Regions from separate parts of the Homo sapiens genome. Here regions 1 and 2 are each linked to region 3. The links come from fine-mapping of genetic effects on gene expression. A gene starts in region 3. Each other region holds a variant in brackets. All regions are shown on one strand. Distances are from middle to middle. Region 1 overlaps ZNF26 (zinc finger protein 26). Region 2 overlaps ANHX (anomalous homeobox). Region 3 holds the start of ZNF268 (zinc finger protein 268).

Region 1 (10,454 bases), 170 kb before region 3:
ATCATGAATCTTCTAAGACTACTTGAGTGGCTCTCTTCATTTCTGTACAAAATGTACCCTGGATGTTTTTACCAAGGACTCAGAACACCTTATTTTGTTTGCATGTATAAATGTTCATTCCCATCTACAAGATAGAAAGTTTCTTGAAGACAGAACTGGATTTTATTCATCCTGAAATCTTCAGGACCCAAGAGAGTACCGGCAAATAGAAGCTCCTTGATTGATTTTTTCTTTCTTTCTTTTTTTTTTTTTTAGATGGAGTCTCACTCTGTCGCCGAGGCTGGAGTGCAGTGGCACGATTTTGGCTTGCTGCAACCTCTGCTGCCTGGGTTCAAGTGATTCTCCTGCCTCAGCCACCTGAGTAGCTAGGATTACAAGTGCCTGCCACTGCGCCCAGCTAATTTTTGTATTTTTAGTAGAGACAGGGTTTCACCATCTTGGTCAGGCTGGTCTTGAACTCCTGCCCTTGTGATCCACCCGCCTTGGCCTCCGAAAGTGCTGGCGTGAGCCACCGTGCCTGGCACTCCTTGATTGATTTTTAATTCTCTCACAAAGTAAATGCTGAACCAGCCACAGGAAATAGTTGGTAGAGGAACATTTATCCCTTCCCAGTTCCTCTGCATCTTTTCCATGTCACCTAATGTAATTGCATCCAATTGAACAGGGTGTGTGTTATTTCAGGGATTATTGTCATTCAAGGATATATCTATGGAGTTCACCTGGGATGAATGGCAGCTACTGGATTCTACACAGAAGTACCTGTACAGAGATGTGATATTGGAAAACTATCATAACCTGATATCAGTGGGTAAGTACTGCGTCTCAATGTTACTCAGATAGTGAATATTAAATTGCCATCCCTTTTTTTGTTGTTGAACTACTCCGGGATCTCTGAAGTGCTTAATGATTATGAACTTGAACTTTAGGGGTCAAATTTCCTTAGTCCCTGTTTGTCCCACACTTCCTAATTGTAATCTTTCCCCAAGTGAGATGAGCAGTTTTGCTCTGTAGCTCTTGATTCCTCGGTCCTGTCCCTAACAGCCTGGTCCCCACCCTTTGTGATTTCCCATCAACAGGGTATCATGGTACCAAGCCTGACTTAATCTTCAAGTTGGAACAAGGAGAAGATCCATGGATAATAAATGCCAAAATTTCCAGGCAGAGCTGTCCAGGTGGGTGAGTGAGAAAGAGGAAGGTGGGAGGCATGGGAGTGAGCTGATGAGTACCTGAGGAGTGGGCACTCACAGTGTTGTCTTCAGAAATGCTTCTGGAAGTCCTTGAGCTATTGGAGCTGACTCAGGATGAAGCCAGGAGCTCCTCAGATAAGGACATCGCCGTCACTCTTCATATATTTGGGTTTTTCTTCCCCCTTACTGTTGAGAGGCAGGCATGCCCCTCTTTCCTGAACTCTGCTTCAGGTTTGCTTTTGGGTAAGTTTCCGTCCTCCCCATGGTCATGGGTTTTATTGGGCATCGAGACCTTTAGAGGATTTCTTTTTCCCCTCACTTGATGTGGCTCATTGCCCTCTATTTCCATTTCTTTTATTTCCTCCTTTGCCTTCCACAGTTAAATCCCCTAGACTTGACTCACAGTCTTGGCCCTGGTGTCTCCTATATCTTTGAGTGACTTTACACACCTTATACTTCCCTTTTGCGTTGTCCAGAGGGGTATTTTTTCCCAGTTTGGCTCTCCTCTCCGAATGTTGTAACTGTCGAAAGGCTCTTCCGTTCCGAAGGTTTACGCTTTCCCCCCAGTGTTGTAACATCAAAATTGACGTCTTTCTCTTTGGCACTTGAGTCCTGGGTTTTACCTGCCTGTGGGAGCGCTACCCCACGCTTTCCCAGACTTTACTCTCAGTATCAGAAATGGGGATTTCCTTCTAAAATTACCGTTCTTCCTCAAAAGAAATGGCCAGAGTCCTTCATTTTCTTTCACAAGTTTCTTTCTTAGTGTTTCCATCTCTAAGGAGCAGTGCCATCTTGCCGTTCAAGCTGTTGACTCCTCCCCTTCTCTGCTCCCACATCTAGTCCCTTAGCAAACCATCTTAGTTCTCTCTCCCGTATGTTCCAAATTTCCTCAACTCCAGACATGTGTTAGGCCATTCTTTCATTGCTATAAAGAAATACCTGAGACTGGCTGGGCACGGTGGCTCATGCCTGTAATCCCAGCACTTTGGGAGGCCGAGGCGGGTGGATCACAAGGCCAGGAGATGGAGACCATCCTGACTAACATGGTGAAACCCCGTCTCTACTAAAAATACAAAAAATTAGCGGGGTGTGGTGGCGGGCGCCTGTAGTCCCAGCTACTCAGGAGGCTGAGGCAGGAGAATGGTGTGAACCCAGGAGGCGGAGCTTGCAGTGAGCCGAGATCGTGCCACTGCACTCCAGCCTGGGCAACAGAGCGAGACTCCATCTCAAAAAAAAAAAAAAAAAAAAGAAAAACACCTGAGACTAAATTTATAAGAAAAGAGGTTTAATTGGCTCAGAGTTCTGCAGGCTGTATGGGAAGCATGGCAGCCTTTGCTTCTAGGGAGGTCTCAGGTAGCTCCGGTCATAGTGGAAGGCAAAGGGGGAGCAAGCACATCACATGGTGAAAGCAGGAGTAAGGCGGGGCGGGGAATGTGCCACATACTATCAAATGACCAGATCTCACAAGAACTCACTATCGTGAAGACTGCACCAAGCCATGAGGGATCTGCCCCCATAATCCAGATGCAGGCACCTCCCACCAGGCCCCACCTCCAGCACTAGAGATTCTAATTCAACATGAGACTTGGGTGGGGACAGATACCCAAAGTATATCAAGAACTGTAGTTCAAATTATTATCTCATTCTGGACTGCTACAATAGCTTCCTAAAGTATTTCTCTGTCCTTTTCTTACTTTTTACAGAACAGTCAAACTGATCTTTTAAATGCAGAAGATTGAGATTTTCTGTAATTAAAACCTTTAGGCTGGGCACAGTGGCTCACACCTGTAATCCCAGTACTGTGGGAGGCCAAGGCGGGCGGATCGCTTGAGCTCAGGAGTTTGAGACCAGCCTGGCCAACAAGTGAAACCCCATCTCTACTAAAAATACAAAAATTAGCTGGGCATGATGGCATGTGCCTGTAGTCCCAGCTACTCAGGAATCTGACATGGGAGGATTACTTGAACCCAGGAGGTCGAGGCTGCAGTAAGCCAAGATTGCGCCACTGCACTCCAGCCTGAGTGAAAGAGCAAGACCCTGTCTCAAAAAAAAAAAAAATCTTAAAAATATGAACAACTTTTTGCCATGGATTTGAATAATTTGGTTCTGCTTTCATTCCATTCACTCAGTGGGTTTTAGCTTTCCTGGCCTTTTTCTATTTCTTAAACCCTGTCAGTCAGGCTTCTTCCTCAGGAACTTTGTACTTGGTGTAGTGGCGTGATCTCGGCTCACTGCAACCTCCGCCTCCCAGGTTCAAGCGATTCTTCTGCCTCAGCTTCCCTAGTAGCTGGGATTACAGGTGCCCGCCACCATGCCTGGCTAATCCAAGTGCCAATTTTAAACCTCTATTTTAAAAAGTATTTTTGATTACTGGTAATTTGCTACCAGTTTTCACGACGGGACCTGTTTTGGTTTGTTTTGATTCAGTTCCCTTGCCCCCATGCTTGGCCAGTATTTCTTTTGAACCAGTGTGGTAGGCTTGTTACCAAAAGAGAAAGGTTGATTACATCACAGTCCTAATACTGTTTAATTCCATATCAGGTTTATGTTATGATTCAAAAAGTTATATTTTGTTTGTTTTTTTGTAGATGGCTGGGAAGAATGGTACCAGAACAATCAAGATGAGCTTGAGAGTATTGAAAGAAGCTATGCTTGTAGTGTGTTGGGAAGACTTAATCTGAGCAAAACCCATGATTCTTCAAGACAGAGACTCTATAACACACGTGGAAAAAGTTTGACACAAAACTCAGCTCCAAGCAGAAGTTATTTAAGAAAGAATCCTGATAAGTTTCATGGTTATGAAGAACCATATTTTCTTAAGCATCAAAGAGCTCATAGCATAGAAAAAAACTGTGTGTGTAGTGAATGTGGGAAAGCTTTTCGTTGTAAGTCACAGCTCATTGTACATCTCAGAATTCATACAGGAGAGAGACCTTATGAATGCAGTAAATGTGAAAGAGCCTTCAGTGCCAAGTCAAACCTTAATGCTCATCAGAGAGTTCATACAGGAGAAAAACCCTACTCATGTAGTGAGTGCGAGAAGGTCTTCTCTTTCAGGTCACAGCTCATTGTCCATCAGGAAATTCACACAGGAGGGAAACCCTATGGCTGCAGTGAATGTGGGAAAGCCTACAGTTGGAAATCACAGCTTCTTTTACACCAGAGAAGTCACACAGGAGTGAAACCGTATGAATGCAGCGAATGTGGGAAAGCCTTTAGTTTGAAGTCTCCATTCGTTGTACACCAGAGAACTCATACAGGAGTGAAACCCCATAAATGCAGTGAATGTGGGAAAGCCTTTAGGAGTAAGTCCTATCTCCTTGTTCACATCCGAATGCATACAGGAGAAAAACCCTATCAATGCAGTGATTGTGGGAAAGCCTTCAATATGAAGACACAACTCATTGTACATCAGGGAGTTCACACAGGAAATAATCCTTATCAATGCGGTGAATGTGGGAAAGCCTTTGGTAGGAAGGAACAGCTCACTGCACATCTGAGAGCTCATGCAGGAGAGAAGCCCTATGGATGCAGTGAATGTGGGAAGGCTTTCAGCAGCAAGTCATACCTTGTTATACATAGGAGAACACACACCGGAGAGAGACCCTATGAATGTAGTTTGTGTGAGAGAGCCTTTTGTGGAAAATCACAGCTGATTATACATCAGAGAACTCATTCAACTGAGAAGCCCTATGAATGCAATGAATGTGAAAAAGCCTACCCTAGGAAGGCATCACTTCAGATACACCAGAAAACTCATTCGGGAGAGAAACCTTTTAAATGCAGTGAATGTGGAAAAGCCTTCACTCAGAAGTCATCTCTCAGTGAACATCAGAGAGTTCACAC[C/T]GGAGAGAAACCATGGAAATGCTCTGAATGTGGGAAATCCTTCTGTTGGAATTCAGGGCTTCGTATACATCGGAAGACTCATAAATGAGAAATCAGAATGATGCAATGTGAGAAACTGATGTTCAGGAGACTTCGGATAATATAGACAGGATTTACAAGCAGGAGGCCCTAAAATTACACTCATGTCAAAAATCAGAGAGGAGAGAGACCAACCATATTTGGGATGAGTGTAAAAGCTTTCAGAAATAAGTTACAAATCTTTGTAGATGAAAATAATGGAAGGAATGTGGAGCAATAAATGTATCAAATGTTGTAGTATCATCATGAAGATTCAGAGAATTTACACTAGGAACACCTTATAAGTTGAATAAATTAAGGAAGCATTTTCCCATTGAAAGTGTGTTCCATGGAAAGTCACATTCCAGATTTGAAGCTGTGTTTTTGTAAAATAAAATCTTGGTATGAACAGTTGACTTCATGGTGGAGTATAAAGTTGTTTTTTTAAAAATATGTAAATAATGTTCAGGAAAAACGCAGGGAACAGAGTCTTAAAGTTAATGGATATTTAATGTGACTTTCCTGAGTTAACACTGAATAGTATTTCTAAAATTTTTTGTACTTTATTTTTTAATGTAACTTGTTCTATCTATCTATATATATATTTGATAGTTTGTGGAATAATATCCCCCAGTATTTTCCATATTAAATGCTAATTATCTTTTGATTTCTTTTTCATAAGCAGATCTGGCATTTATTACAGGGCTGCCGCTTAAGAGAACTCATTATAATGAACGTTTATTATATTTTGCAGTTCCATGCCTGTTGTCCATTGATTGACATGAGCACCCCTGTTTTCTCTGGAGAAATACCTCCCCTCTCTGGGGTGCTTCCTGTGGTAGTGTCTTTCAGGTATCCGTTCCACTAGCTACAGGTGAGCATTTTACCCATTGTTGGATAATGGTAATCTCTTTTTCAGAATTTTGAGTCTGTAATTCATTTGTACATGAACCAGAAAATGTGGGAACTCATTCATTCTTGTCCCAGAATTCTGTTGAGAACATCCATTCATTCTGGCTAATTGATTACAAGAATAACTGTGGATACGATCCCTTTAGAACCTGCTTCTCTGATCTGTGTGTTTCCTCACTTCTCAATAAAAATGTCTTTTGCTTTTTGTTGTTTGGGTTTTTTTTTTTTTTTTTTTTTTTTTTTTTTTGAGACTAAGTTTCACTCTTGTCCTCCAGGCTGGAATGCAATGGCATGATCTCAGCTCACTGCAACTTCCACCTCCTGGGTTCAAGCAATTTCCTTGCCTCAGCCTCCCAAGTGGCTAGGATTACATGCCTGGCTAATATTTGTATTTTTAGTATAGACGGGGTTTCACCATGTTGGCCAGGCTGGTCTTGAACTCCTGACCTCAGGTGATCTGCCCACTTCAGCCTCCCAAAGTCATGGGATTACAGGTGTGAGCCACCGAGCCCGGCCAGCTTTCTATTTCTTATAACCTAAGGGCTTTAACTGATCAGTTGTTGCCTTGGTAGCATGTAGTTAACAAAGTGGGGTATATGATTTAGGTTTGTTTGTTTTTCCTGAGACAAGAAAATCACATTCTTGTTTATATTTGAAGATAGCAACTTTTAGCCATCATGTGAAATATGGTTATTGTTTCTGTACACCTGGAACGTTGTAGTGCCTGATACTGAAATTTTGGAAACACTGAAGAATTATAGCATTATAAGAATTTTAAATTTATGAGAAAATCTGAGACAGGGGCAGAGATGGCTGATTTTGATCTTGCTGGATCTTAGACCATGAGAATGACAGGCCTGAAGCCCTGAAATCTCACCTCAGGGTGGAGTGTCAGACTTGGCAACTTTGACATTGCTGAAAAAGTTTCTTACAGCTGTAGGAGTGAGGTGGTGGGAATCAAATAGTATATTTGGCTTGGTGAATTAAAGTCAGTTCACCTCAAATGTTTACTAAATCCCTTAATGTAAACATGTGTTGAAAAAGTTATCCTCACCCTTCCCCCCCTCAAAAAGTTATCCCTTGATAATTTGAATAGGAATATCTGGGAAGAACCTGAGGACTCAGCCTAGCAAGCTCTTGTGATAGACTTTGAATAGCAGTATCTGCGAAGAACCTGAGGCCTCAGCCTAGCAAACTCTTCTGATAGACTTTGAATAGGAATGTCTGGGAAGAACCTGAGGACTCAGCCTAGCAAACTCTTCTGATAGACTTTGAATAGGAGTATCTGGGAAGAACCTGAGGACTCAGCCTAGCAAACTCTTCTGATAGACTTTGAATAGGAATGTCTGGGAAGAACCTGAGGACTCAGCCTAGCAAACTCTTCTGATAGACTTTGAATAGGAGTATCTGGGAAGAACCTGAGGACTCAGCCTAGCAAACTCTTCTGATAGACTTTGCACTGCAGATGCTTCATTTAAGGCTATAGAGTAGATGTTGGCAATATATAAAATTCAAACTTGAGTGTCCATAAATAACTGTTGTTGGAACATGGCTAAATATATTTGTGTATTATTTGACTGCTTTTGCACAGCCATGGCACAGTTGAGTAGTTGAGGTATAAAAAACCTGCCACCTCCTGATACAGATAGAACCCCTTCCCTTTTCTGGGAAAATGTGGAATTTGCCTTGCAGGAGGAAGCTTATTCTGCCAGTTCCCCATGGCTTATTTTTACCAGTTTGGTAACAATAATCTACACTAAACATGCCCTGGGATGGGATTGCTCATTTAGGAAAATATGTAGAATTCATAGAGCATTGCAGGAATGAGTAATGTATCAAAACTTCTCAGCATGACAACACCCAGGGCAACGTGACAAAACCCTGTCTACAAAAGTTTCTTAAAAGCTGGTTACAGCGGTGCACACCTGCAATCCCAGCTACTCAGGAGGTTGAGGCAGGAGGATCACTTGAGCCCAGGAGGTCAAGGATGCAGTGAGCTGCACTGTACTCCAGTCTGGGCAACAGTGAGACCCTGTCTCAAAAAAAAAGTTGGGGGAGGGGGTAGATACTTGTGAAATCCTTTGAGGGTGTTCAGTGAAGGGCAATTACTTACAGCATATACTTGGTGCACTGACACCCAGCAGTGATGATGGTTTTGCTTTCTGTTTTTTTTTTTGTTTTGTTTTGTTTTTTTTTTTTTTTGAGACGGAGTCTTGTTCTGTCACCCAGGCTGGAGTGAATTGCACAATCTCGGCTCACTGCAACCTCCGCCTCCTGGGTTCAAGCGATTCTCCTGCCTCAGCCTCCATAGTAGCTGGGATTACAGGTGTGTGCCACCGCGCCTGGCTAATTTTTGTATTTTTAGTAGAGACGGGGTTTCACCACGTTGGCCAGGCTGGTCTTGAATTCCTGACCTCAGGTAATCCACCTGCCTCGGCCTCCCGAAGTGCCGGGATTACAGGCGTGAGCCACCATGCCTGACCATGATGATGGTTTTAAAAGTTAGCTGTAGCAGCTAAGGCAAGACCAGATCCAACACTGGCTTATGGCAAGGGGAAGAACAAAAGTCAGGAACTTTGCCATAATCTAGAAGAAAGAATGATAATGCTTTGTGACATGCTGGATTGTATCCATTATGTGTTCCTAAGACCCTCAGCCCTCTCCCTCCACCAAGACCCAATAAAAGTGTGTTATTGAAAGTAGTAGCTACTGGCCGGGCGTGGTGGCTCACGCCTGTAATCCCAGCACTTTGGGAGGCCAAGGTGGGTGGATCACAAGGTCGGGAGTTCGAGTTCAGCCTGGCCAATATGGTGAAATCCCGTCTCAACTAAAAATACAAAAATTAGTCGGGCATGGTGGCGGGCGCCTGTAATCCCAGCTACTTGGGAGGCTGAGGCAGGAGAATCGCTGGAACCCGGGAGGTGGAGGTGGCAGTGAGCAGAGATTGCGCCATTGCACTCCAGCCTGGGTGACAGAGTGAGACTCTGTCTCAAAAAAAAAAAAAAAAAGAAAAGAAAATGACAAACACATGTTCTGTGTATATGACACAATCCTAACTGTGGCATGTATCTATGTCTTCACTTGCATCGGCCTCAATTATCAACTTGTGGCAAAAGAATAAGAAAGAGAACTAAAAAATGAAAAAAAATAAGATGCTTTCCTATGGTCCCAGCTACTTGGGAGGCTGAGGCAGGAGTGTCGCTTCAGCCCAGAAGGTTGAGGATGCAGTGAGCCATGATTGTGTTTCAGCCTGGATGACAGGGCAAGACCTCATATCTGTAAAAAGTAAAAATAAATAAACAAACTATATAATAATAATACAGAAGACAAATGTCAATGTTGCTGAAAAGCCAAAAGAAGCCAAGAGGACAGTCTTCTGAGTAGAGGGCATAGGAGTTCCCAAAGAGGAAAGTCCAGTCTGAGATCAGGCTGGAGGCCAAAAGGAACTCTTGACCTGAGACAGTTGGAAATATTACTTCTACTGGCAAATAAAAGTGCTTCAAGCAGACGTTTATTTAGAAATTCATGCTGCATGTTTATTGATGGAATGTTTGTGTGACTCTTTAATAGAAGTCTGAACTAGGTATGCCATATATTTCCATATATCTTCATTTGTCTTGGGGGTAAGTGTTGAGAGAAGGAAGTGGCTTTTGGTTTTGTGAGTGTCTTGAAGATCTAAGGTTTATTGTGAAAAAGTGTAGGGGTAATTTTTTTTTTTTTTTTTTTTTGAGACAGAGTCTCACTGTGTCACCCATGCTGGAGTGCAGTGGCGTGATCTCGGCTCACTGCAACTTCCGCCTCTGGGGTTCAGGTGATTCTCCTGCCTCAGCCTCCTGAGTAGCTGGGATTACAGGCACCTGCCACCACACCTGGCTAATTTTTGTATTTTTAGTAGAGATGGGGTTTCACCATTTTGGCCAGGATGGTCTCAAACTCCTGACCTCAGGTGATCCACCCGCCTTGGCCTCCCAAAGTGCTAGGATTACAGGCATGAGCCATCGTACCCGGCCAGAGCATCCTTAATTTTTAAAAACAATTTAGCTACTTTTTTTTTTTTTTTTTAACTATTTTAAGAGCATCACAGTAAAAGGAAAATAACAGCTCACTTTGGGGCCAAAGTCTAAAATTTAAAATCAGCCCTACTCTGGCTGGGTGCAGTGGCTTATGCCTATAATCCCAACACTTTGGGAGGCAGGAGGATCACTTGAGCTCAGGAATTTGAGACCAGTCTGGACAACAAAGCAAAACCCCATCTCTGAAAAAAAAAAAATACCCCGGGATGGTGGCTTAGGGCTGTGGTCCCAGCTACTCTGGAGGCTGAGGCAGGAGGATTGCTTGAGCCCAGGAGGTTGAAGCTGCAGTAAGCCATATTTGTACCACTGCACTCCAGCCTGGGTGACAGAGCAAGACCTTGACTCAAAAAAAAAAAAAAATTCTACTCTCTTGGTATTT
Region 2 (10,454 bases), 36 kb after region 3:
AGCTGGGATTACAGGCATGTGCCACCATGTATGGCTATTTTTTGTATTTTTAGTAGAGACAGGGTTTCACCATGTTGGCCAGGCCAGGCTAGTCTCAAACTCCTGTCCTCAAGTGATCCACTTACCTTGGCCTCCCAAAGTGCTGGGATTACAGGCTTGAACCACTGCACTTGGCCTCCATATTTTTTATAATAGCCACTCTAACATGTATGAAATGGTATCTCATTGTGGTTTTGATTTTCCTTTACCTAATGGCTAGTGATGTTGAAAATCTTTTCATGTACTTCTTGGCACTGGATTTGGCAATGATTTATTGGATATGACACCAGAAGCATGGGAAACAAAAGAAAAAATAGGTAAATTGGACTTCACCAAAATTGAAAACTTTCGGCATCAGTGGACACTATCAAGAAAGTGAAAAGGAGCTGGGTGTGGTGGCTCACGCCTGTAATTCCAGCACTTTGGGAGGCCAAGGTGGGAGGATCACTTGAGGTCAGGAGTGCGAGACCAGCCTGGTTAACTTGGTGAAACCACGTCTCTACTAAAAATAAAAAAAAAGAGAAAAAAAAAAGCCGGGTGTGGTGGCATGTGCCTGTAATCCCAGCAACTCAGGAAGCTGAGGCAGGAGGATCGCTTGAAGCTGTGAGGTGGAGGTTGCAGTGAGCCGAGATCATGCTACTGCACTCCAGCCCAGGTGACAGAGCAAGAAAGCAAAATTCCATCTCAAAAAAAAAAAAAAGGCCGGGTGTGGTGGCTCACGCCTGTAATCCTAGCACTTTGGGAGGCTGAGGCAGGTGGATCACGAGGTCAGGAGATCGAAACCATCCTGGCTAATGTGGTGAAACCCTGTCTCTACAAAAAAATACAAAAAATTAGCCAGGCTGGTAGTGGAAGCCTGTAGTCCCAGCTACTTGGGAGGCTGAGGAAGGAGAATGGCGTGAACCTGGAACCAGTGAGCCCAGATCTCACCACTGCACTCCAGCCTGGGCGACAGAGCGAGACTCCGTCTCAAAAAAAAAAAAGGTGAATATAGGAGAAAAGACACTGTAAAATAATATACCTGATAAGGGTCTAGTATCCAGAACATATAAAGAACTCTTACAACCCAACAACAAAAAGACAACCCAATATCAAAATGGGCAGAGGACTTGAAGAGACTTTTCTGTAAAGAAGATATGCAAATAGCATATGAAACGATACTCAACATCACTAGCCATCATGGAAATATAAATCAAAAATACAATGAGATAACACTCCATACCCATCAGAATGTCTTATTATTTTAAAAACAAACCAGAAACAAGTATTGACAAAGAAGTGGAGAAATGTGAACACCGCTGTAAAATGGTAAAGCTGCTATGACTGACCCTTGCTACAACGTGGAGGAACCTCAGAAACATTGTGCTGAGAACCCAGCACAAGGCCACACACCTGTAATCCCAGCTACTCGGGAGGCTGAGGTGGGAGGGTCGCTTGAGCCTGGGAGTTCAAGTCCAGTCTGGGCAGCATAGCAAGACTCCATGTCTACAAAGATAAAAATAAAAGCAATGTGCAGAAAGAGGCTGGCCACAAAAAGGTCACATACTGTATGATACCACTTATATGAAATACCCAGAATGGGTAAATCCAAAGAGAGCATATTGGTGGTTGTCAAGGGTCGGAGGGAGGATGAAATGTGTGACAGCTGCTTAATGGATGGAGGATTTCCTTTGGGGTGATGAAACTATTTTGGAACTAAGAGGTGGTGGCTGCACAATGTTGTGCATGGACTAAATGTCACAGAAATGTACATTTTTAAAAGTTAATTTTATATTGTGTAAATTTTACCTCAATAAAAAAATCTAGTCCACAGCATTCCCTCACCAGGGTCAGCCCTCTTAGCCTCACATTTAAGTCCCTCCATAGCCCAGTGCTGCCTGGGCCTGGCCAACCACATTCCAGACATGTGCTCCAGCCACACCATCTGCCAGCTCCTAAACCCATGGCTGTTTCATCATTCCAGGTCCAGGTCACCTTCTGATGCCTTCACAGACACTAAGTGATCAGCAGTGCCTCCTTAGGGCACACAGGGTCTTTTGAAACTTGCATTGCTGGAATTCATAGCTCGGCACGTGGTATCCAAGGGTTGTCCCATTTCAATAAGGAGAAATCAGTGTTTTCTGACCATCACCATGCAGCTATCTTGCTCAGGTGACTCACAGCTATCTGCTAGGTATGGCTAGTTCCTTGTGCAGAGGGGAGGGCCAGGCTCAGGTGATTGAATGATTCACCTGCAATCACACAGCCTCCAAGTGAGGTTCACACTCAGGTTCCAGCCCAGAACCTCGTTTCCAGGTGCCACTCAAAGTTTGTGAGTCACATGAACCTGTGTCCAGGCCACACAGCAGAGGTAACCCAGCTGTGGGGGCACTTGTCTGGTCATGAGATGGCCCAAGTCCCACGTGAAGCCTCATGAGCCACACAGACCCTATCATAAATACACCAGCCTGGGGCTCCCCAGAGGCCAGCTCCAGGAAGTGGAATCATGCTAGTATTGTAATATTTAGTTAGAACTGAGGCCACCTGCAACTCGCTGCCATCTACACCGCTTCCACTCTCTGGTTGCTAACGATCAATGCTAGGGCCTGCCTCAACCCTGATGATTCAGCTCCACTGAAGCTCCCCAGAAACCTCCGGGGCTCTGCAGGCAAGCAGAGTGGGAGGGATGTTATCTGAGTCAGAAGGGGCTTTTGCCTTTGGAGGCCTGGGACTGTACGACTTTCTGCCCAGGTCACAGGAGGTATGGGAGCCCCCATGAGAGGTCCCTTGCTGTGGTTCACCGTCCAGAGAAGGACCAGCCTCTGGTTTTTCCTGCCTTCAAAACACCAGCACCTCAACCCCAGAACAGTCTGGATCCAGCCCTTACTGGGCAAGGGATCCCAATGCCAGCCCCAAACCCAGCAGTTAGGCCCTCCTGTGAACTGCCTGGAGCACCAGGTACAAGGATGGGGCACCCTGGGAGGGGCCATGATTACTTGGCACCAGCAGGGATATGGTGATCACCAGCAGAGACAGAGACACTGCTGGGGTTGAATTATATCCCCCAAATTCATATGTTCAAGTACTGACCCCCAGTAGCTGTGAATGCGGCCTTATATGGAAATAGGGTCTTTGCAGATGATAAATGTGAGATGAAGTAATTAAAGCCAGCCTTAATCCACTATGATTGTGTCCTTATAAAAAGGGGGAATTTGGACACAGACATGCATACAGGGAGGAAGGCTACTGAAGACTGAAGCTTCAATGTCACAAGCCAAGAAACAAGTAGAACTGGGGAGAGGCCTGGGGGCAATCCTTTCCACTCTTCAGAAAGAGCATGACTCAGTCTCCTGGATTTCCCAACTCGGAGACAACAAATCGTTGCTCTAAGCCTCTCAGTTTGTGGTGCTTTGTTACAGCAGCCCTAGGAAAGGAACACAGGCATGCTCCATCCACCACTCTCTCCAGACCACAGCTGCCTCCCAAGCCCACCCGAGAGGGTGAGTCAGGGAAGTAGGGCTCTTCATGGGCCACCACTGCTATTGGGTGGTCATTTCCACTCTGTCTGGAAGTCCTGGTCTCAGTTCTCAGTCTCCTGGTGCTGTTTTAGGCTCTACCTTGCTGTCCCTGGGGCTGCACCTGAGCCTCCACCCCTGTCCCTGGGGCTGTCCTGAGCTTCTACCTTGCTGTCACTGGAGCTGCCCTGAGCCCCCACCTCGCTGTCCCTGGAGTCCAGAAAGCCCAGGGCTGGCCAAACCCCACCCCTCATACCTCTCTTGGCCCCTCCTCCCAGCCATCAATCCACTGGAACAGCCATTATGTCCCTTCATTCTCTAGACAGGTGCCTCAGGAAGGCACAGAAAGGGGTCACACCACTTGGTCATGGTGCCTTACCTGTGTCCACTGGACTCAGGCTGGTCCTTTAATGGGATGAGGGCAGAACAGGCTGTGGGGCCACATCCCATTGTCAGAGAGGCCAGGGATAAAGCCAGAAAGGAGACAGGGGAAGGAAGGGCCTGTGGGCAGCAGTTCCTCCTCATAGGTGCTGAACAGAGAAAGTGAGGAGCCTCCAGCCTCCATCCTGGCAGGACCATCAACCACTGGTAGAGATCCCCTTTTGGGAGGTCCAGTCCTAGCCAAGGGCCAGCTCCAGAGACTTTGGTCCATTTTCTCTAGAATGGACATGATACAGCTGTCTGAGTCAGGACTCTAGAATGTTCAGGACTGAGCCCTGCTGAGGACAAGAGGGAACAACATGCCATGGAGATCCTTGTGCAGCCTGGGCCTCTGACTGTGACCAGCTAGCACCCAGTGCCTCTTTGCTGGGTCTCTGGGCCCTGCTGGTTGCAGGAAAGGCCTCAGCCCAGGGATGGGATGGGCCCAGGCTCTGCGTGTTTCCTGGGAGGGCCAAAGGGTGGTGCCTCCCATAGCAGCCCAAAGCACAGTAGTCACTGCTGCTGCTTCTGCCCTGAGTCTGGGGGAGCCGGCATGTGGGGAACATGGGGGCTGGTTCTCCTGCGACAGGGAGGCAAGCAGCTGTGCCCTCCACTCCACACCACCCTGTTGGCAGCACATCCTTCAAGCTCAGGGTTGCTGGGAAGCTGGTCCCAGTGCCCTCCTGCTTCTCCTCCAGGCCTGGGGATTGCCAGGGATGCATGGGGCCACAGGTGAGCAATGCAATGGTTGCCAGACACCAAGGCTCCTGTTCTCTTTGCCACACTACCCCATTCCCTCCCTATCACAATGCTCTTCTGCAACCTCCGTCAAGATTCTCCTGTTCTCCCGACCCCCACCGTCAGATCTCCCAGCTATGGCTCCTCCTTCTGTTCCACCCATGACCCCACAGGAAGGTTGGTATTTGTGCCTTTGCCTCTCACAGAGCAGCTTGGGAGCTCCTGAGAGCAGGGCCAGAGTCTGACTTCTCTGGGTTAAGGGCTACTGATCTCAGCCCAGACCACATGTGGCTCTCCCCTGAGATGGGCACGTGGCCAGGTGAGCACAAGGTCACAGACACTCCAAAATCCACAGTCCACACCTAGGGCTACCATAATCGACCCAGAAATTCAGCTTCCAGGAATTTATCCTAATAATAGCCAGGTGAAGGGCAAAGGGCAGAGGGCAGGGTTGCCCACGCTAATGCTGCATATAAAACAGACACACTGGAAACTGTCCAGATGTCCATCTGTCGGGCACTGCTGCATGATTAATGTACACCCACATCATGAAACACTGGCCCCGGGTGGAAAGGCTGATGTTCATCTCTGTACTTTGACATGGACAGATGCCCAGGATACATGGTTAAGTGAATACAAGGGGGGAGTTCAAAACATTAAACTTTAATTGACTACAACATTTGTGTCATAGACACAGTGAATTACAACCTGGAGGGAAAATCCACCCTACTCTGCCCTGCCTAGGCCATTCGCAGACAGGTTTGCCTCCCAGTACTCAAGGGAGAAGCCCCTACACACAGAAATCTCAGAACACTCCTCATACCTCACTCAGTTAACTTGGTGGAAAAGTCTGGCTGTGTGCACGGGCAGACGGCAAGGCAGCCAGCAGCAGAACACTCCCCTCTCTAGAATGGCCTTCTCTGCACGAGTGCCCCGGAGCCCGACTGATCCAGTGCTGCGTGAGTGGGACAGACCCACCTTTGACTTCTGATCTCACGAACATTTCTCAAATGCTTTCTCTACTACAGGGAATTGCTAACCAAACTATTCAAACATGGCAGTGGGAAAGAATCTCTGCTTTTCAGCAGAGCCCCCAGGGGAACTCTGGGGACCTTCATTTTGTATTCAGGATAAAGCTCTGTAACTCCTTGTGTTGACCAGG[C/G]AGACCATCCACACCCGCTCCTCCTGGGGTGCTGTCTGGCTCCTGGGGATAGCTCAGCCCAGGCTGCTCCCTGAAAACTCAAGGAGCATCCTGGCTCCCCAGAAGGCATCACCAGAGGCCTGGCTATCAGAACACTGCACCTGGAAGACAACACAGTGGTAAACACAGAGGCTTCCTTTCCAGGCTCAAGACCTGCCCTCCCACCTGGGCACCTCCTGACCTTGGGAAGACCCCCCGCAACCAGTCTGGACTCAGGAGGGAATGTTGCCCCACAGCATCCCTCACCCCAGCTCCCAGTCCAGTAATGTCCAGCCACAAATCATCTTTGCCCCTTGTTTATCTTTGCCTGGTGTATTCACTCCAGTGGCACTAGCTGAACCCTCCTCAGCACCATGAGCTGCAGATCCAGGAGTAAAGAGGGAATCCTTCAGTGCTCATAGGGAAGCCTCACCTGGCTGGAGGGCAGGGCCTGGCTCAGCTCCATGGCAGACACAGGGCCGGGGAAGGCAGATGGGGCTGGGGCCAGCTCTGGAGGGCTGGAAAAGAGACAGTGTAAGAATAGGCCCTATCTCAAGGGGACACTGGGGTGACAAAATCCACCCAGCTGTGCTTTCTCCCTCATCAGGAGACATTCTAGTACTTGACACTCATCAGAACAGACTCTCTTCCTGCAGGGCTGTCACGTATGTAGGGTGTTAGGAGGGGAACATGTTACACAGAGAGCAGGGTCACCCGGTGGGTCATAGGGGCAACTGCACAGAGGGCTCAGAGCAGGGTCATGGAAGAGCCAGTGAACAGAAATGTGGAGGAAACAGAGACCTCAAAGGAGGAAGAGCCGGGATGCACGGCACAGTCACTCAGGACAAGGGGCGGTGGTTCTTCAGCAAGGTCAACGCATACTAGCATGTGACATGGCCACGGCACTCCTGGGCATGCACCATGAGAAATGAAGGCAGGTGTGCAGACTATACACATACAGGATGTTCACAGCAGCTTTATCTGTGATGCCCCCAAATCCCCATCCACAGGACAAGGGTGAAGAAGCTGTGGCACATCCACGCAATGGCACGTGGCTCCCCAGAGAGAGAAAGAACTGTTCACGCATCCAAAACATGGTGACTCTCAAAGTCGTCATGCAGAGCGAAGGAAGCCAGACCACAGCAAAACAAAGACCCGAAAATATACCGTATTTACATGAAATTCTATAAAATGCAGCTAATCCTTAGTGACAGAAGCAGATCCATGGTCCTGGGTGGCCAGGGAGAGGCGAAAGGCAGGAGGAGGGTACATTGAAGACCTTCATCACGGTGGTGGCCTCGTGTGGATGTGAAAGTCACACTGAGAAAATTCAGGTGCTCCGTCTACACATGTACAGCCAATTACACCTCAATGAAGCCACTTTTAACGAAGGAACTGATGTTTTCAGGTTGAAGCATGGCCTTCAGATCGGAACAGGGAGGCATGGGAGTTGGGGGAGCAAGAGAAGGGGTCGAGATGGCCATGTGGAGAGGTGAGGCGAGACACACAAGGGGACACCGTGGCCATGGCAGCCTCTGCCTGGTCTCAGCTCCCAGCCATGAATGGAAAAGTGAGTCCATCTGTGTGGTGTACATTTTCTCACAGTCAGGCTGTTTGAGCAAGCAGGCCATGTGATTTAGGGGCTGCTCCGCCTTTTCTCCTATGTCCCTCTGTAATTCTGCCCTCACTAGCATGAGCCTTGAGTCAACCTGGTTGCAGCTCCCTGATGAGGGAGACCCCACAACCTGGGGATCTGCTCTGCTCCTGGAGGCCCTAGTGTAGAGAGGATGGGGCGTCTGCTAGAACAGGAGTGGCGGGTGCGATAGCCTCCCCACCAGAGGACCCCAGGCCACCCTGCCCCAGTCCTCCATCCCTCCTGTCTCTGCAGGATCCCACCTGCTGGGCTGGCCCCGAAGGCCCTGGTCATCTTCTGTTTCTACAGCACTGACACTATCAACAGCAAGTGCTCACGGACGCTGTTCAAGACCCCAAGTCCCTTGAAAACTACAATTCAGAATATAAAATCAGGATCTTGATTCTGCCAGAAACTGACAGTGTTTGTTCAGGGAAAAGAAAGGCTGCTGGGGTCCAGGGTGATTTGGGGGTAAGGGTGAACCCTGATCATGTCCAATGCATGGGATGCCCACATCTGCTCTGATGTTTTGGGCTCTCCTGAGAGAAAAACTACCCTTTTCTTCATAGGTGTAGGCTTGTGGGGACTGTTACAGTTTTCAGCAATCCAAAGGAGAGGACCCTATCTGCACAGTCCGGGACGGTGAGTCTATAAACTGGGCATTACCCTATCTTGTGGCCTGTGGAAAGGACTGTCCAGGCCTGTGGCTCTTCAGGGCTTACCTCTGGGTGAGGATGAATTCAGGAGCTTGCAGTGGGGGCTGTGTCACCAGGAAGCTGCCCACCCGTAGCTCTGTCCGTCCACTGCTTGTGCCCAGACCCTCCTCCAATTGCACGCTCTGGGGATGGCCGCTGGGGGGGCCAGAAAACCCTGCATGTAATGAGATTCCACGGCACACTGGCAGGAGAAAGGAGCAGAGCCCACGTGTGACACAACCAAGACCTCAAAGCACGGAGGCGGATGCAGCCTCCGGCCCAGCCAGCCCGCGCCACGTGAACCAGACTCACGGTCCCTGGGCCTCAGTCTCCCTCTCTGAGGAAGGAACTGTCACAACCATTGATCTCAACAGCCTTCCAGGCTTCCAGAGACCAAGACACGGTTGCTTCTGCTGACTTTAAATGCTGCTGTCATCGCAGACCTCATGTGCCCTCGGTGCCAGTCAGAGTCTGCAGCTTGCTCCGTCCTGCTGGTGCGGAAGGATGTGCCAGGAGCCCTCAGTCTCCTCTTGTGGCTGGTTCACGGAGTGCTTGGCCACCAGCCCTTGGTGGTTTCCACTTTTACCTCTTACTAAGGTTACCAAGATGTCACTGAGGTATAAGCTGTCACTAGTTTCCCCTCCCTTTGACTTTCCAGAGCGTATCTCAGAACATCTCTCACTCTTAGACAAGCTACTGTGGTTTTGGTCAATTCTGGGTGGACATTTAGGAGAGCTGTGGCCTGAAAAGGCAGGTTTTTTCCTGCCCTGAGTCTACTAGGCTGTAAAACAAGCATTAAGATGGCCCTGATCTCAAGACATGGAACAAGCGGCCTGGGGGTGAGGCTCATGTGGTCCTCCTTCCTGTACAGCAGAGTGACCACCTAACCTGGTGCCCAGCTGCCCAGGGCCTTCTTAGGTTGAAGGGACCTTCCTGACCATGTGCCTGCTTTCTGCTATTTCCTCTTTCATGCAGACCTTACAGACACTCTGGAGAGAGGAAATAATGTTCAAGCACTAGTTTGGACATTCTAGTTCCATCCATCATAGTACAGCAATAGATTACGCATTCTCTTTCCAAGAGAAAGGGAAAGCCATGAGCACAATGTCCACAGTCGTGCAGTCAGGACGCAAGTGCAGCCCATGGTGATGGGGTGTCTGGCAGGGAGCTGGGGTGTGGGGCAGGGGCTGAGATTCCCAAGGAGCTCGGGAGGGAGAGCATCCGGGTACCCAGGCAGCAGCAGGGAACCCGAAGGCAGGGGTTTCAATAGACAGAACAAAGGAGTTCGCTGATTCCCACAGAACATCCCCCCTCACTTGAGCAGGCTCCAGGTCTGAAGACCAGCTCCTCTTGTCCCAATGTGAAGACACCCATTGACCGTCCCCACGCCAGCCTCGTCAGTAAGTACAGACAGGCAAATGTGAGTGTCCAACAGTTAAATAAAAAGGACAGCAAAAAATGGAAGGTCAGTATGATCAAACTGACAAGCCCTCTCCTGAGGCGCGAGCCCTAAGATCCCTTCTTCTTTCTGGCCCTGCATCAAGGAAGGGCCAGAATCCACAGTCCCAACAGTCCTGACTTCAGACAGTGAAGCACATTTAAAAAAATTATTATTAGGAACCTTAGAGAAGTGTAAGATATTGCATCCATAGAAAGTAACAATCTATGAAGGAAGAAGAGTTCAGAGATCAGTAAAGAAGGATTGAAATTCTCTTAAGATATACAGCAGTTGGCCGGGCGCAGTGGCTCATGCCTGTAATCCCAGCACTTTGGGAGGCCGAGGCAGGTGGATTACTTGAGATCAGGAGTTCGAGACCAGCCTGACCAACATGGTGAAATCCAATCTCAACTAAAAATACAAAATTAGCCAGCATGGTGAAACATGCCTGTAATCCCAGCTACTTGGGAGGCTGAGGCAGGAGAATCGCTTGAACCTGGGAGGCAGACATTTCAGTGAGCCGAGATCGCACCACTGCACTCCAGCCTGGGCAACAAGATCAAAACTCCGCCTCAAAAAAAAATATATATATATATAACTGTTAAAGCAAAAAATCAGAAGACAGAATTTAAGAAATACCCAAAACGCACATCAATAAAAAAATACAAGATAAAAGGTAAGTTCTTTGGGAGACTGGTCCCGGAGTTCCAACATCCAAATAACATTTGTGCTCTGAAGAGAGAGCTGAAAACATGGAAGCAGGAACTTATCAAAGATACGATCAAAGGATATTAGAAAAAAATGCCCAGAGCTTACA
Region 3 (10,454 bases):
ATTCAGCATCCCTTCATGATAAAAATCCTCAAGAAACTAGGCATAGAAGGAACATACTAAAAAATAGTAAAGGCCACATATGACAAATTCACAGCCAACATCATACTGATGAGAGAAAAGTTGAAAACATTCCAAGAACTGGAACAAGACAAGAATGCCCACTTACACTACTGCTATTTAACATAGTACTGCAAGTTCTAGCCAGAGCAATCAGGCAAGAGAAATAAAAGGCATCTGAATTGGAAAACAGGAAGTCAAATTGTCCCTGTTTGCAAATGATATAATCTTATATCTAGAAAAACCTAAAGATGCCACTGAAAAAGTATTAGATTTGATAAATGAATTCAGGAAAGCTTCAGTATTCAAAATCAAAACAAAAAATCAGTAGCATTTCTGTACCCTAACAACATCTAGCTAAGAACAAAATCAAGAAGGCAATTCTACTTTTAATAGCTACAAAAAGCTCACCTCAGAATACATTTAACCAAAGAGGTGAAAACTCTCTACAAGGAAAGTTACAAAATACTGATGATAGAAATTGTAGATGATATAAACAAATGGAAAAACATCCCATGCTGTTCAGAGGAATTAATAATGTTACAATTATCATACTATCCAAAGCCATCTACAGATTCAATGCACTCCCTATCAAAATATCAACGTCATTCTCCACAGATTTAGAGAAAAAAAATCCTAGGCCGGGTGCGGTGGCTCACAGCTGTAATCCCAGCACTATGGGAGGCCAAGATGGGCATATCATGAGGTCAGGAGTTCAAGACCACCCTGGCCAACATGGTGAAAACCCATCTCTACTAAAAATACAAAAATTAGCCGGGCATGGTGGTGCACACGCGTAATCCCAGCTACTCTGGAGGCTGAGGCAGGAGAATTGCTTGAACCTGGGAGGCAGAGGTTGCAGTGAGCCGAGATCATGACCCTGCACTCCAGCCTGGGTGACAGAGTGAGACTCTGTGTAAAAAAAAAAAAAAAAAAAAAAAAAGAGAAAAGAAAAAGAAAAAGAAAAAAAATCCTAAAATTCATATGCAACCGAGAAAGAGCTCAAACAGCCAAAGCAATCCTGAACAAAAAGAACAAAGCTGGAGGCATAACTTCACCTGACTTCAAATTATACTATAAGGCTATAATAACCAAAACAGCATAGTACTGGTATAAAAACAGACACATAGGTCAATGGAACAGATAGAGATCCCAGAAATAAAGCCACATATCTACAGCCAACTGATCTTTGACAAAGTCAACAAGAACAAGCATGGGGAAAATACAACCTCTTCAATAAATGGTGCTGGGAAAATTGGATTGCCATATGCAGAAGAATGAAACTTGACCCTTATCTCTCGCCATATACAAAAATCAACTCAAGCTGTATTAAAGACTTAAATGGAATACCTGAAACTATAAACATACTAGAAGAAAACCTACGGAAAACCCCTCTGGACATTGGTCTGGGTAAATAATTCATGACTAAGACCTCAAAAGCACATGCAACAAACAGAAAAAGAGAGAAATGGGACTTAAACTAAAAATCTTCTTCATAGTGAAATAAACAGTAAGCAGAGTGAAGAGACACTTGCAGAATGGGAGAAAATTTTTGCAAGCTTTGCATACAAGAGGGGACTAATATCTAGAGTTTACAGGGAACTCAAACAGATCAACAACAACAACGAAACCCAAATAATCCCATTAAGAAGCAGGCAAAGAACACAAATAACACTTTACAAAAGAAGACATACAAATGGCCAACAGGCATATGAAAATATGCTCAACATCATCACTAAACATCAGAGAAATGCAAATTTAAACCACAATGAGGCCGGGCGCTGTGGCTCACGCCTGTAATCCCAGCAGTTTGGGAGGCCGAGGTGAGCAGATCACCTGAGATCAGGAGTTCAAGACCAGTCTGGCTAACATGGCGAAACCACGTCTCTCATAAAAAATACAAAAATTAGCCGGGCATGGTGGTGGGCACCTGTAATCCCAGCTACTTGGGAGGCTGAGGCGGGGAGAATTGCTTGAACCCAGGAGGCGGAGGTTGCAGTGAGCCGAGATCAAGCCACTGCACTCCAGCCTGGGCGACAGAGCGAGGTTGTGGGGGAAAAAAAAGAGATATTATCTTACATCAGTCACAGTAGCTGTTATTAAAAAGACAGGCCGGGCCGGGTGCGGTGGCTCACGCCTGTAATCCCAGCACTTTGGGAGGCCGAGGCGGGCAGATCACGAGATCAGGAGATTAAGACCATCCTGGCTAACACGGCGAAACCCCGTCTCTACTAAAAAATACAAAAAAGTAGCCAGGCGTGGTGGCGGGCCCCTGTAGTCCCAGCTACTTGGGAGGCTGAGGCAGGAGAATGGCGTGAACCCGGGAGGCGGAGCTTGCAGTGAGCCCAGATCGCGCCACTGCACTCCAGCCTGGGCGACAGAGCGAGACTCCGTCTCAAAAGGAAAAAAAAATCAAAACAAACAAAAACAGGCCGAGCTCGGTGGCTCATGCCTGTAATCCCAGCACTTTGGTAAACTGAGGTGACCGGATCACCTAAGGTCGGGAGTTTGCGACCAGCCTGACCAACATGGAGAAACCTGTCTCCACTAAAAATACAAAATTAGCCGGGTGTGGTGGTGCATGCCTGTAATCCCAGCTACTCAGGAGGCTGAGGCAGGAGAATTGCTTGAACCTGGGCGGAGGTTGCGGTGAGCCGAGATCGGGCCACTGCACTCTAGCCTGGGTAACAAGAGCAAAACTCCGTCTCAAAAAATAAAATAAAATAATAAAAATAAAAAGACAAAGAAGATGTTGGTGAGGATGTGGAGAAAAGGAAACTCCTATACACTGTTGGTGAGAAAGTGAAATTAGTATAACCTATGGAAAACAGTGTGGAGAATTCTCAAAGAACTAAAAATAGAATTACCATTTGATAAAGCAATCCTGTTACTGAGTATCTACCCAAAGGAAATCATTATATATATAAAAAAAATACCTGCACTCATATGTTTATCACAGCACTATTCACAATATCACAGGTATGGAATTAACCTAAATGTCCATGAATGGATGAATAAAGAAAATGTGTTATATATACACAATGGAATACTATTCAGCCATAAGAAAGAATGAAATTGTCTTTTGCAGCATCATGGATGGAACTAGTGGCCACTATCTTCAGTGAAACAACTCAGGCACAGAAAGAAAAACACATGTTTTCACTTTAAGTATGAGCTAAAGGATATGTACACATGGATGTAGAGTGTGGGATGATAGACAATGAAGACTCAAAAGGTGTGGGGGGGTTTCAGGGATAATCATAAATTACCTGACTGGTACAATGCATATAACGTACTATAGGGCGTGGATACCTTAAAAGCCTTGACATCACCACTACACAACTGATGCATGTAACAAAATTACACTTGTACCTCATAAATTTATAAAAGTTTTTAAAAGCCAAAAACAAAAGAATTCTAGAAAACTTGTATCTGCCTCTGTGAATGTCACCTCTTCCCAATACTTAAGATCAATAATGATTAGTGGATATTTTCCGTTGGTGCAAAAGTAAGTAATTGCGGCTTTTGCCATTAAAGTAAACCAATATTTTCCAACTGGCCAATACATGATGTTACGAAATCATGCGTGATAAAAGAATCCATTCAAAGTGCAGTGTAGACCAACGGATTTTATGTAATAGAGTAGAAAAAGTTCATCTACGTGGTTTCAGATTGTACACTAACAAAACTATCCCTTGTTCGACTTGTATCTTTATATACTTTAACAAAAACAACATACGCAACAGATTAAACATAGAAGCAGATATGAGAATCCAGCTTTCTAGTAAGTCAGAAAAGACTTAAAAAGCGAAGCCACTCCTTACTAAATTTTTTCTTTTGTAAAATATATGTAATTTTCATTAAAATATTATTTATGTTAACATGTAATGGGAATTTTACGAATCTGTTATTAAAGTGTAAAGCAAAATAAGACTTTTACCATTTCAGTAAAGCAGGGACTAGAACACTTGTAACCTAATTTACATCCCTCCAACCGTTGAGCCATTGGTGTCAAGTATTTTAATTCTCTTTAAAATTTAAAACCTGCAAGCGCGGGAGCTCAGGGACCTGGCCAGGAAGGCCTGAGCTTCCGGGTCATCTTAGCACGCCCCCTCCCGGTGGCCCTTGGCCGGAGCCCTCCGGCGCGGGAGTAACTCCTCGCAGAGGCCTCTGGGAGTTGTAGTTTTTTTGCCTTTGCCTCTCCATGACGCAATTCCTGTGCGACATACGTAGCGGCCGCCATTGTTCCGCGCCGATGGCGAGATCCTTGTTCCTCAGATAGCGTTCATCGCCCGTCGTGGTCAACGGGCCAGCCGAGTCTGGAGTGGTTGCGAACCCTTCTGGCTGCAGATCTGGAGGTGGAGGCAGTACCCTGGACTCTATTCTGCTGCCCCTTCAGGGTTTGGAGGAGCCGGAGGTGCGGAATTCCTCCGGTTTCAAGGCGGCGGGACGGGACAGAACTAATCTGCCTTAGCTCTCTCCTGCTGCTGACCCGGGGCGGTTGCCTGACCCTAACCTGTGTGTTGGTGAGGGTGTGGAGATGGTGAATCCCGTGCTGTGGGAGGGAAGGAGCCTCAGCTCCGAGAATGGCAGGCAGCCCTGGTGCCTCGGACCCTCCCCCTCTGGGTTTGGGGACTGCTGGGTGACCTCTTTCTTCACTGTGCTCTCTCTTCTAGCATCCCTCGCGTCCTGTCACTTCCAGCGAGGCACACAAAACTGACCGTAGGGATGGCCACCAGGGTCCGGACAGCTTCTATTTGGGTGAGTAGGGGTTTTCTTTCATTCTTGAAAAGCTCTCCCTGAATGCCAACGTGTGCGCACTCCATCTACTCCAGTCTGAATTTGCCAGGAGCTTTCTCACCCCACCGCTCTTTTAGGCAACTGGATCGTCATTTATAGCATGTTAGACTTTCCAGAAATGCTTCTTGTCATCCGACTTCCTTTTTTCCTCCTTTCATCAATCTCTTTTCTAACAACTTTGTACGCTGAACTTTGGAGTTAAACAAGGGATACTCACACATCTTTCAGTTTTTTCAGCCTTTATTTACTGAGGGCCTTCTGTATCTGGGATCTTTAAACCTTATTTTGGAAATTACAAACTTTTTTATTCACTTGTTCAACATTTTTTTTTATTGTATTTTGTTTGCTGGACCCTGGGGCAGGTGCTAAAAATGCAAAGATGGGTTGCTTATCATCCCTGTCTTGAAGAACAGTGGTCTAGGAATGGTGGATAAGAAAGACAATGACAAGTTAATGAGTGCTCTGGGAGCAGGCTGTGGAAATACACGGAGACATGCAGGAATGGGTCAGTTTTGGAAGTAAGGACACCCCCTAACCCCTTACTCCCAAATGCTTCAATGATTAAGAGATTCTTAACCTTAGGTTTGAAAGATGACAAACCTAAAGTAGACAAAGGATTAAAACCAGCCTAGGAAAAAGAAGTAACGTGCAAATTTGAGAGGCTTGAAATGACCTCATGTGGTGAACTTTGGGCACTTTAGGGTTGCTAAAATGTTGAGTTTAATGGTGATAGTAGAGTTATATTAAAAAATGAGGCTAGAGCCGTAGGCCTAAGATCATAGAGGGCTTTGAGGACCCCATTAAAAACTTGGATTGTATCACATAGGGCAGGTGGTCCCCAACCCCCACGCTTCAGACTGGTACCAGTCTGTGGTCTGTTAGGAACTGGGGTGCATGGCAGGAGGCGAGTGGCGGTTTAGTGAGCATGACTGCCGGAGCCCCGCCTCCTATCAGAGGCTGCATTAGCTTTTCATAGCACAAACCCTATTGTGAACTGCGCATGCGAAAGATCTAGGTTGCGCACTTCTTATGGGACTCTAATGCCTGATGATCTGAAGTGGAACAGTTTCATCCAGAAGCCATCGCCGCACCCGACTGCCCGTCCATGGAAAAATTGTCCTCCACAAAACGAGTCCCTGGTTGGGGACTGTTGGTATAGGGGAAGGAGTTTACTTATTGAAGTGTTTTCACAACGGATTTGAGGGTAGAACAGTCTAGTCTGCAGCAGGTAAGAGAATATAAGGGTTTAAGTAAATTAGTGGTTTTGAGAAAGGAGAGGAGGTGGCTGGGTGCAGTGGCTCCCACCTGTAATCCCTGTTACTCGGGAGGCTGAGACAGGAGAATCGCTTGAACCCAGGAGGCAGAGGTTGCAGTCAGCCGAGATCGCGCCACTGCACTCCAGCCTGGGTGACAGAGCAAGACTCTGTCTCAAAAAAAAAAAAAGGAGAGGAGGTAAAGAGGCAGAAGAAATTAGATTTCATAACTAGTTGGGTGCAGTGCTAAGAGAGGCAGAAAAGCCAGGGATGACAACTGGAGTTCTACTCTGTGGGCCTGGTTGGGAGTGTCACCATTTGCTGAGTAAGGGAAGACTGTCAGAATTGTGATTGGTAGAGGGGGAAGATTTCAGTTTTGTATGGATTGGCTCCTCTAGGTAGAGGTTGCAAATTAGGTGTGGCCAAAGTAGCTCAGGGAGAATGTGTACCCTAAGAAGAGAACTGAGGACAGTGGTCAGGGAAATGACAAGAGAAAGCAGGGGAAGAGGTGTTGAAGACTGAGATGGAACCCAAGAAAAGTAAGACAAAATAGAGACATGTAATTCACACTTAAAGAAATGGAAACCTCAAAAATGCTTGTCAAGTGACATGTATGAGGGAGATCAAGTAATATTAGATCATTGTCTTAGTCTGTTTGTGCTACTGTAACAAAATATCACAGACTGAGGAACTTATAACAGATACTACTTTCTCACAATTCTGGAGGCTGACAAGTTGAAGATCAAGGTGCTGGTGAATTTGGTATCTGATGAGGCCTGCTTTCTTGTTTTCTTTTTTTTTTTGGAGACAGTCTCTCTCTGTCCCCAGGCTGGAGTGCGGTGGCGCGATCTTGGCTCACTGCAACCTCTGCCTCCCGGGTTCAAGTGATTCCCCTGCCTCAGCCTCCCAAATAGGACTACAGGCGTGTGCCACCACGCCCAGCTAATTTTTTTTTTGTATTTTTAGTAGAGACGTGGTTTCATTGTGTTGGCCACAATGACCTCGATCTCCTGACCTCATGATCCACCTGTCTCAGCCTCCCAAAGTGCTGGGATTACAGGCGTGAGCCACCGCACCCGGCTCTGCTCTCTGCTTTCAAGATGGCACTTTCTTGCTACATCCTTACATGGTGGAAGGGGGCAAAAAGGGAAGAATGCTGTGTCCTCACATGGCCAAAGAGATGAAAGGGCCAGGCAGCTCTCTGAAACCTCTTTAAGAGGGTATTAATCCCATTCCTGAAGGAGAGCCGTCATGACTTAATCACTATTAAAAGGCCGCACCTCTTTATTTATTTATTTATTTGTTTATTTTTTTGAGACTGAGTCTCGCTCTGTCTTCCAGGCTGGAGTGCAGTGGCTATCTCTGCTCACCACAACGTCTGCTTCCCGAGTTCAAGTGGTTCTCTTGCCTCAGCCTCCTGAGTAGCTGGGATTACAGGTGCGCACCACCATGCCCAGCTAATTGGCCCCACCTCTTAATACCATCACAATGGGGGTTAAGTTTCAACATGAATTTTGGAGGGATGCAATCATTGAAACCGTAGCAGTCATAAAAACCTAAATGGAATTTAGTGGTGATGGGCTGTGTGTGGTGGGTCACGCCTGTAGTCCCAGCACTTTGGGAGGCCAAGGTGGGCAGATCATCTGAGGTCAGGAGTTCGAGACCAGCCTGGCCAACATGGCGAAACCTCGTCTCTACTAAAAATATGAAAATTAGCTGGGCGTGATGGTGGGCACCTGTAATCCCAGCTACACGGGAGGCTGAGGCAGAAAAATCGCTTGAACCCCAGGAGTAGGAGGTTGCAGTGAGCCAAGATCACGCCACTGCACTCCAATCTGGCGACAGAGTGAGACTCTGTCTCAAAAAAAAAAAAAAAAACAAAGAATGTGTGGTGGCTACTTTAGCTTGGGTGCTCAGGGAAGGCCCCCACTGAGGAAGTGACGTCTAAGCTAAGTCTGAGTTACAATAGCAAGCCAGCCTTGGGAAGAGCAGGTAGAAGAACATCCAGGATGGGAACAGCCAGGGCCAAGGCTGCGAGGCAAGAGAAGTTTGATGCCTTGGTAACCTGGAAGGAAGGACTTTGTGACTGGGGTAGGGAGTGAGAGAGAGGAGAGCAGATGAACACAGGTGCAGAGGCCAGATCAGGGAGTGAGAGAGAGGAGAGCAGATGAACAGAGGTGCAGAGGCCAGATCAGGTAACCTGGAAGGAAGGACTTTGTGACTGGGGGTAGGGAGTGAGAGAGAGGAGAGCAGATGAACACAGGTGCAGAGGCCAGATCAGGCTGGGAAGCCATGGGGCCCGGGAGAGTGTGTGGCGCTAAGACAGGGAGCAACGTGAGCTGCTTAGGGTTTCCAAAGACCCTTCTGAGTGCTGAGTGGGGGACAGGTTGTAGGTGGGCAAGAGTAGGCACAGAAAGAGGGGGAAGCCAGAGACTGACTAGGTGACCACGTTCAGACAAGAGGTAGCAGGGATTTTGTGTAGTGTGGTAGAAATGGAGACACTGGTCAGAGTTGGGGGATGTTTGAAGGTGGAGTCCTCTTTTCTAAGAACCAGCATATGCTTTTTATCTTGTTGATTGTCATTTTGTAGTGTGGTTTATTTTCATTAAGTATTCCTGGTTTTATGTTTTGTTTTGTTTTCTTTTGCCGTTTCAACCAAATGTTAATGCTCAGTGTCTACTACGTATGAGGTTCTGTGCTAAATCATTTATTAGGTATTATCACCTTAAAACTTCACAGTAGCCCTAGCCCCAGGTGGTGAATACTGTTTTTCTCCTTTGATGGGTAAGGGTACTGAGGTCCAGAAAGGGCTAGTTGGAGACCAGGTGGCACCCCTGGTCAATGTAGAGCCAGGACTTGAACCCAGATATTCTGGCTCTACATGCATTTTCCTGGCCTGTGTACCTTATTTAGTCTCTGGATGTAGGTTGAGGATTTCTTGAGGCAGAGATTCTAGGATCCTAGACCCTGAAATGTAGAGTAAAATGTGGAGCGGGTAGACTGTGCCCAGTGTACACAGAGAAGGCTCTGAGACATAAGCTGTTGGTCTCCAGGGAATAATCTTTTTTTTTTTTTTTGGAGATGGAGTCTCACTCTGTTGCCCAGGCTGGAGTACAGTGGCACTCACTGCAACCTCTGCTTCCCAGGTTCAAGCAATTCTCCTGCCTCAGCCTCCCAAGTAGCTGGGGCTACAGGTGTACGCTGCCACGCCTGGCTGATTTTTTTTTTGTATTTTAGTAGAGACGGGGTTTTACTGTGTTGCCCAGGCTGGTCTCGAACTCCTGAGTTCAGGCAACTCACCTGCCTCGACCTCTCAAAGTTCTGGGATTACAGGCATGAGCCACTGCGCCCAGCCTCCAGGGAATAATCTTAATGTCCATTAATGGTGAATGATGAAACGTGATGGAATACTATTCACCAACAAAAAGAACAAACTATTGATATGTGCTATGACAAGCATAAACCTTGAAAGCATTATGCGAAGTGAAAGAAGCCAGACACAAAAGACTAGATATTATATGATCCCATTTATATGGCACACACATGCGTATACGTATACTTGCAATCCCACTTCTTTTTTGTAACACAAAAGCTAGCTTTCTGTACGTACTATTCTTCCCCTTGTCATTATCACTAAGAGTATATATTGATCATTGTATTATACCAATAGTGGTACATAGAGGTTGTTCGCTCCCTCTTCCCTATCTCTTATCACCTTTTACTGGCTGTATGGATGGCCCATAGTGTTTTCAACCAGTTATGTAGTTACAGATATTTGGGTTATAAAAATGCCTTGGTGAACAGCCTTTTCATGGCATTTCATTCATTGTTTCTTTTTCTAATTTTTTATTCCTTTTTTTTTAGGCTTTCCCCACTTTTCACCTGTGCCGCCTTCTAGGTCGTTGGCGCTTTTTTATGTTCCTCCTAAATTTAATCTTCATTTCTGAATTTTTTTCCTAATTTATTTATTTATTCTGATATTTCTCATTTCACATTTTCCAGATTTCACATTTCTAAGCATCTACTTTCTAGGCTCTTTTATTTTTTATATATCTGTCCTTTCAAAGTTTCGTTTTTCTGATTTCTTTTACTTCATTTTGAAATATTATGTTACAATTTTTTATGTGGTCAGATATTTTGGTTATGTTTTTATTGTCTGTCAGAGCCTCGTTTGGTTCCTTATTCCCTCATAATAATGTTGTGTGGGTATTCCTACTGCCCTACCAAACCAGCCTATTAAGACGCCATTTGGTTTGTGGCAGGAAGTCCGTTTGGAGGCTAGGATGAGCCAGGACAGTTTTCTCTAGCTTTGCTGTTTGAGGGTCGTACCTGTATTTTTATCAT

Evidence for each region. PIP is the estimated chance that this variant, and not a neighbour inherited with it, causes the effect. A credible set is the group of variants that fine-mapping cannot tell apart.
Region 1: its variant is the best candidate, but not a certain one, in a credible set for the expression of ZNF268 in whole blood (INTERVAL, PIP 0.63).
Region 2: its variant is the best candidate, but not a certain one, in a credible set for the expression of ZNF268 in nasal epithelium (TOPMed, PIP 0.70).

Annotation. Positions count from the first base shown.
Region 1 is chr12:133,006,361-133,016,814 of GRCh38, forward strand. ZNF26 (zinc finger protein 26) reads left to right here. Exons shown (of 4, transcript NM_019591.4): 2 at 682-808; 3 at 1,077-1,172; 4 at 3,776-10,454. The coding sequence ends at 5,121. Among named protein-coding and RNA genes, the nearest start is that of ZNF26, 25 kb to the left of the region's middle. The variant C/T (reference allele first, on the strand shown) is at 5,034.
Region 2 is chr12:133,212,979-133,223,432 of GRCh38, forward strand. It overlaps ANHX (anomalous homeobox), which reads right to left. Exons shown (of 10, transcript NM_001372060.1): 8 at 8,227-8,374; 9 at 6,305-6,389; 10 at 5,334-5,993. The coding sequence ends at 5,907. It overlaps ZNF268 (zinc finger protein 268), which reads left to right. Exons shown (of 6, transcript NM_003415.3): 6 at 1-1,854. Among named protein-coding and RNA genes, the nearest start is that of ANHX, 18 kb to the right of the region's middle. The variant C/G (reference allele first, on the strand shown) is at 5,854.
Region 3 is chr12:133,177,213-133,187,666 of GRCh38, forward strand. ZNF268 (zinc finger protein 268) reads left to right here and starts at 4,283. Exons shown (of 6, transcript NM_003415.3): 1 at 4,283-4,474; 2 at 4,734-4,818. The coding sequence starts at 4,786. RefSeq lists enhancers at 4,001-4,525, 4,121-4,430, 4,471-4,670.